2 linked regions of the Homo sapiens genome follow. The protein of the gene in region 1 interacts with the protein of each later gene in a biochemical or structural test. Each region holds a gene or a part of one and is shown in the gene's direction. Other genes may lie near its edges.

Region 1 (3,500 bases):
CTTTTATCTACATCTGTCTTGGCCGCTGTATGAATACCATCATATGGTAATTTTTTCATTGAAATTTCTTTAGAAACCTATGTTAATCTAGCTCATTTCAGTGTCTTTAACATAAAGAAATTTGAATGTCCATTGTCAGTTTTTTTTCTTGGCCTTTTAACTGGTAGAAGACATTTTGAAATTAATAAACTGGAATGAAATTTTGGTGATTCTTCTTTACAGATACTCGTGGCTTTGCGGCACCTTCATTTTAAAAATATCGTTCACTGTGACCTCAAACCAGAAAATGTGTTGCTAGCCTCAGCTGATCCTTTTCCTCAGGCAAGTATAAAAGCCTCTCTCAGCAAAAAGCCAGTTGGAAGCATTGCTAGCTTCCATGTAGCATCTTGTCACCTTCCATTTTTCCCTTAAAACCTTTATTTGTTTCAAGTGTTTTCTATCCATTTTTATTCATTTGTTACTTTGGGACTATGGCCTTGTTACTCTGGCCTTTTGGTGAAGCATGCCTTAATTATACACAAAAGTGCCTTCTCATTCTGCCTTTTGGCTTTTCCGGAAGTGGCCTGAGAGTGACAACACTTGAGAGTCCCAGAGATGTTACCTGCTCATTAATGGGCAAGATATTAAACCTCACTGTTGTTCTCAAGGACAAGGGCAAAACTTTTTTCCTTTCCTCAACTTAGAGAGTGGGAAACCAGCTATCTCCGCAGGGAATTATAGGTCTGAAGTGACTTGACTGATGTGACTGTCCTGCCTTGCTTCCCTAACACCTTCCGGTCCTGCCTATATATGTGCCAGTGCAGAGCTAATTTTGAGGATTATTGTGGATGACATGACACATCTCTGTACTTATCCTTCATCTTCTTCTCATAATAAGCGCTTGAGTGAAGGTCATCACTTCCCAGATTTGCATAACGCTTTCCTGCCTTGTATACAATATTACCCACTTCTGAGTACACTTGTCTTCATATTTGTCTCTCGGTTTTTGGAGGAGGGAGACTGTTTTTATTTTTTCATTTATTTTTATTTTATTTTATTTTATTTTATTTTATTTTATTTTATTTTATTTTATTTTAGACAGAGCACTCTGTTGCCCCAGGCTGGAGTGGAATGGTGCAGTCTCAGCTCACTGCAACCTCTGCCTCCCAGACTCAATCAATCCTCTCACCTCAGCCTCTCGAATAGCTGGGACTATAGCTGCACACCACTACGCCGGGCTAATTTTTTAATTTTTTGTAGAGATGGGGGTCTCACTATGTGCCTAGACTGGTCTTGAACTCCTGTCCTCAAGCAATCCTCCTGCCTCAGCCTCCCAAAATGTTAGAATTACAGGCATGAGCCACTGCACCCTGCCAAGGGAGACTGTTTAGATGATATTTTTATGAATGAAAACATACTTTTGTATCACTACATAAACCACTGTCTTCAAATACCTAAAATGGAAAATAGCTATTACTTTAAGAAATCCATATCATTTAATGTAAAGGTAAAGTATTTAAAATATTATGGTTGTATCTGGTGAATCTGAACTAAGACACACAGACACACAATTGTGAACGGAGTATTTCTGCAAATCCTTTCATCAACAGGTGAAACTTTGTGATTTTGGTTTTGCCCGGATCATTGGAGAGAAGTCTTTCCGGAGGTCAGTGGTGGGTACCCCCGCTTACCTGGCTCCTGAGGTCCTAAGGAACAAGGGCTACAATCGCTCTCTAGACATGTGGTCTGTTGGGGTCATCATCTATGTAAGCCTAAGCGGCACATTCCCATTTAATGAAGATGAAGACATACACGACCAAATTCAGAATGCAGCTTTCATGTATCCACCAAATCCCTGGAAGGAAATATCTCATGAAGGTAATATCTTCCATTCAAAAATGATAATAATCTAATCCTTATTTGTTTATGTTATTAATTTAAATTAATTTAATTGTAAATTATTAACTTAATACATGCTCATTGTAAAGTGCCCACCAGAGTGGAGACACAAAGACACGAATTAATTTGGGTGGGACACATACACATAACAGAAATTGGGTTATATATATTAAGAAGTAAGTGAACAACCAGAGAGAATGTATTTTGGTACATTTCATTAGAACTTATAAATACTTATACCTTAATATAATAGTAATAATGAATTATTAGTAAGGGCTTACTTATATGTGCCTAGTTCTGTGTTAAAAACTTTTAAACTATTATCAACACAAGAATGTTATGACATTGATATTTTAATGATCATATAACATATGTTAGTATACCAAGTTCTTTGTCTACTGGTTTTCTTTGTGTGGCATTAAAATATGTATAATATTTTACTTGGCCATTCCCCTGGAATTTTTAGGTTATTTCTCTATGTTTAGTATTAGAACATCCTGATGTATCATTCCTATATATATCTCTGATGATTTCTTTAGAATAGATTACCTTGACAGTGTTGCATTGTTTAGAGTTATATTCTTAATAAATATTTCCTTCCTCTTAAAGGACAAAAGATTGTTTAAAAGAAATTGCAGGGGCTGACAGGGCAGAGAAAGTGACTCATTCAGTACTTCGGAAAGGAGTTCCTCCTTTAACATACATTGGAGTGTATTTAATTCTCATAAAAATTCTATAAGATAGGTGTTACTATGATGGCTATATTTCAAGTGTGGATCACGAGGTCAGAGGTTCAAGATCAGCTTGGCCAATAGGGTGATACCCCATCTCTACTAAAAAATACAAAAATTAGCTGAGCGTGGTGGCACGTGCCTGTAGTCCCTGCTACTCAGGAGGCTGAGGCAGGAGAAGCGCTTGAACCAGGGAGGTGCAGGTTGCAATGAGCTGAGATTGCACCACTGCACTCTAGCCTGGGCAACAGAGTAAGACTCCATCTCAAAAAAAAAGAAGTGACACCACTGGTCAAAATACAAAGCTAGTAAGTAGCAGGGGCATAATTCTTACCCAGGTAGTCTGAACATACTTTTTTTCAGTACTAGCCCTACGTCTTTTCTAGTTTACAGGCAATATCTAGTTCTAGGTTCATTCTGTTTGTTCAGATGTTCACCATGTGAAAAGGCTAGTACATTTGTAAACATCTCTTATGTGATGCCTGTTACTGCATATGTTGGTATAGAAATGAGAAAAGAATGTACAAACCGCTTAGGAGAAATTAAGTTATTAGACTGCTATTGGTATTAAATGACAAGAGCTATCCATTATCAGAGCTTTAAGTTACCATTAGCAACAACCTTTAACATCCTCTAATTAGTTGTAAATCATAGGTGGATGGATATATCTTAAAGGAACCTGTGGCCTACAAAAGAGCTATCATGTGTGCCAAAGGAATAATTAAATATTTTTCATAATTCAACAAAGATGAAAAGTAAAGTGTAATTAAGTTTCTTTCCCAGGAGACAGAGAGAATTATCAAATAACCTTGTGACCAGTACCCTTGTTAGGAAACATTACATCTAAATACAGCTAACCATTATGCTTGATATTGCTCATCTAGAAATCCA
Region 2 (4,022 bases), on another chromosome or scaffold:
CGCCACTGCACTCCAACCTGGGCTTCAGAGCAAGACCCTGTCTCAAAAAAAAAAAAAAAAAAAAAAGGTCCCAGGGCCTGTTGGGGCTTGGGGGTGAGGGGAGGGATCTTAGAGGATGGGTCAATAGGTGCAGCAAATCACCATGTCACACATATACCTATGTAACAAACTTGCACCTTCTGCACATATACCCCATTTTTTTTGTTTGCTTGTTTGTTTGTTTTTTAGACAAAATAAAGAAAAAAAAATAAGGTCCTGTTGACTTAAAACTTCGGATGAAATTGTAGTGGGACCTGTGATCTGTTTCTACATTAGGATACAGTGCCTTGGGGCAAGGAAATATGGCAGTGCCCGAGGTGTCAAGGTGGGCAGGCAGATCAGTCAGCAGGGGCTCCACCATCATGGTCTGCATTCAATACTGGCTGCATTTCCTAGGAGAATCCCTGGGGGAATCATTGCAGTTGGAGCATAATGTAGGGGGCCCCTGAGAAAACCTCCAGGCTTCAAGTGACATACCTAGTCTGCTTTACCGGTTTACAGGACTCAAGAGAAAGGTGGACATTGAGAGTTAATCCCTGAGGCCAAATCTTAAATGGAGAAAGTCAACATCCACAGAAAATGGGGAAGGGCACAAGTATTTCTGTGGGCTTATATTCCGACATTTTTATCTGTAGGGGAAAAATGCTTTCTTAGAAAATGACTCAGCACGGGGAAGTCTTGTCTCTACCTCTGTCTTGTTTTGTCCTTTGGGGTCCCTTCACTATCAAGTTCAACTGTGTGTCCCTGAGACTCCTCTGCCCCGGAGGACAGGAGACTCGAAAAACGCTCTTCCTGGCCAGTCTCTTTGCTCTGTGTCTGCCAGCCCCCAGCATCTCTCCTCTTTCCTGTAAGCCCCTCTCCCTGTGCTGACTGTCTTCATAGTACTTTAGGTATGTTGTCCCTTTACCTCTGGGAGGATAGCTTGATGACCTGTCTGCTCAGGCCAGCCCCATCTAGAGTCTCAGTGGCCCCAGTCATGTTGAGAAAGGTTCTTTCAAAGATAGACTCAAGATAGTAGTGTCAGAGGTCCCAAGCAAATGAAGGGCGGGGACAGTTGAGGGGGTGGAATAGGGACGGCAGCAGGGAACCAGATAGCATGCTGCTGAGAAGAAAAAAAGACATTGGTTTAGGTCAGGAAGCAAAAAAAGGGAACTGAGTGGCTGTGAAAGGGTGGGGTTTGCTCAGACTGTCCTTCCTCTCTGGACTGTAAGAATATGTCTCCAGGGCCAGTGTCTGCTGCGATCGAGTCCCACCTTCCAAGTCCTGGCATCTCAATGCATCTGGGAAGCTACCTGCATTAAGTCAGGACTGAGGTGGGTCTGGGGTATGGCAGGGGCTGGGCAGCAGCAGCAATGTACCTTGCTTGGGACCCCTAAAAACCAGAGAGACAGCATGGCTGGTGCCATTTATCAGCTAGTGGAGGAGGCTGACGGAGGGTGGGAGTGTCATCAGCACAAGGCCCTGGCAGTCCCTTCTGGTGATTAGAGAGGCCGAAAGGGTCCTTTCCGACAAGGGCTGAGGGTGGGCGGAACAGGAAGAGAAAAATGTGACATGAGGTGACCATCCGAACAGGTAGCAAATGTTAGAAAGGGGTACCTCTGGCAAACTTAGTGGAAAAGTAATATTGCAGGGAGCAGTCAGATAAAAACAAGCCCTTCTGTCAAATAGTGCTTGAAGACTCAATAGGGATACATGGGTCAATGAAGCCTTTAGAAAAAGAAATACTAAGAGGCAGATTCTCTGAGAACATGGTAAAAGCTCACGCTCCACGTTATGAAGTTGACCTTTGTGAGCTAGGGAAAGGCCTGGCTAGGCCAGGGTGTAGGCTACCTGCCTTGAGCTGTACCAGGCCAAATGTCGCCAGGGTCAGAGCTGGCTTATTAAAGGACTGTGTGGAAGCTGTGCCAACCTCGTGGTAACAATGGGTAAAAGACTGGGCCAGGAGAAAGCAGCCTCTGCCTCAGCCCAGACAGTGCGGCCAACCCTTGAGGTTGTGGCAAAGGTTTCTCCTCTTACCATTGCCCTCCATGTGCATGGCTTGCTTTTCTCTTGTCTTCATTATTTCTCCTTTCCTTTCCTCCTCTCCAACCTCCTCCTCTTCCCACTCATCCTCTTTTCTCTACCTATATCCCCTCTTCATTATACCCTCCTCTGTTCTGTTGATTACCAGACCCTGACATACAGTTAGCACTTAACAAATAATTGCCGAATTGCATTGACTTTTTCTTGCTCCTTTCTTCCCCCGCTCTTTTCCCTTTTCCTTTCCCTTTCCATTTCCTCCTCCCTGCCTGCCTAGCACCTTCCCCATAAGGTGGTTGTGAGCAGTAAATGTGCAAATACATGTAAAGCTTTTAAAACAGGGCCTGGCAATAGTAAGTGCTGGATCTCAGTATTTGCTATAATTTTTACTCTGCCTCAGACCTGCCAATGTCCCCCAGAGGGCCTACCTAGAGCAAATAATATGACATTTAGAATAAAAGTGATTGGTGACCCCAATCAAGACATCCTTGGATAAGTTGCCCAGACTCCAGCCTCTCTGGAGCCTCAGTTATTTGATAAAATAATGTCACTTTCCAAATAAGCCACAAAATGCAAATACTCATGGCAACCTAAAGCATTATACCCAAACAGTGTCCCTTAGGGCTTGTCCTGTCTATTCTGACTCCTTTTATATTCAAACTATTTAAACTGCTTGCTTGTGTTGAAGTCCAAATTTCCATTGCGTATGGCTATTGATATTTTTGTTTGGAATTTTTTTTTTTTTTTTTTGACACGGAGTTTCACTCTTGCTGCCCAGGCTGGAGTGCAATGGCACGATCTCGGGATCTCAGCTCACCGCAACCTCCGCCTCCCGGGTTCAAACAATTCTCCTGCCTCAGCCTCCCAAGTAGCTGGGATTACAGGCATGTGCCACCACGCCCAGCTAATTTTGTATTTCTAGTAGAGACGGGGTTTCTCCATGTTGGTCAGGCTGGTCTCGAACTCCCAACCTCAGGTGATCTGCCTGCTTGGGCCTCCCAAAGTGCTAGGATTACAGGCGTGAGCCACCGCACCCACCCTGGAATTCTTTGTAAACTCCTTATGGTGCGAACTAATGTAACTTTCCATCCAGTTATGGGGGATTGGTGCAATTTTAAATTATCACTATGATTTGCTATTTCCATTTGAGCAAATTTCCTATAGAGTTTCCTTTCAGTGGACTAGACCCATATCAGGAAGTGACTTAGGTATAAAGGGAAGATACAGCTTTCGAAAACCAAAGTTTGGGCGTTCTCCAAAGAGTTATCAGATACCCCCTTCTACACCCACAATGATCTGATTGCTGAGATCTGATTGCTAACTACTGAAAATAAGGAAGAACTAGAATTTTCAGTGACACAGTGCTCAGCAAGAAGCTAGAAAAGAGGCCTTGACATATTTGACTCCAAAGCTACTTGGTTATGCATGAAGCCATCTGGGGAGGGGAAGGAGGAGGGAGAACTCCTCTGAGGACCCTGAAACAATTGGGCCACGTGTGACTTTCAGTTTCTATGGAGATTCATGTGCAGTGGCTGAGGGCAATCTGAGAGCATTGGAAACCCAGAAGCTTTAATACCAGGCTCTTCTCTCCGCTCTTAGAAAGTTCTCACAAGATGTCTTTAGGATTATATTGGTTATTTGAATCTCAAGGAGAAGCTCCTCTCACTGCCCTACCTCCCTGAACTGAAAACAAACTGTAGTCTGTTAGCTCACCCTAGAAGAAGGAAATTCTAGAGTCAAGAGAAGTTAAGTTTTAGACAAGCTGGAAGTTGGAATATACTGGAGTTTAAGATCATTGACTCAATGAAAAAAAAAAAAGATTTGTCTGCAGTAAAACCAGAGTTTTAAAAATGATTAGAAATGGACCAGAAAAGAGATAAGGATAATGAGAAAGGGGGCTCTCTAAAACTATTTGGAACTGAAATTGGGACAATGTTTCTGGAAACTATTTTGGCAGTATGTAT

What was found. Proteins that work in one complex are often made in the same cells at the same time.
Region 2: the proteins of PRKD1 (region 1) and BTK form a complex in vitro, tested with the Homo sapiens proteins (one study listed by BioGRID).

Annotation. Positions count from the first base shown.
Region 1 is NC_000014.9:29,595,848-29,599,347, reverse strand, and holds part of PRKD1 (serine/threonine-protein kinase D1), read left to right. Parts: intron 1-222; coding exon 223-321; intron 322-1,589; coding exon 1,590-1,857; intron 1,858-1,871; exon of another isoform or gene 1,872-3,500.
Region 2 is NC_000023.11:101,383,392-101,387,413, reverse strand, and holds the start of BTK (tyrosine-protein kinase BTK), read left to right. Parts: upstream 1-1,222; 5' UTR 1,223-1,352; intron 1,353-4,022. UniProt on the Homo sapiens protein: Non-receptor tyrosine kinase indispensable for B lymphocyte development, differentiation and signaling. Binding of antigen to the B-cell antigen receptor (BCR) triggers signaling that ultimately leads to B-cell activation.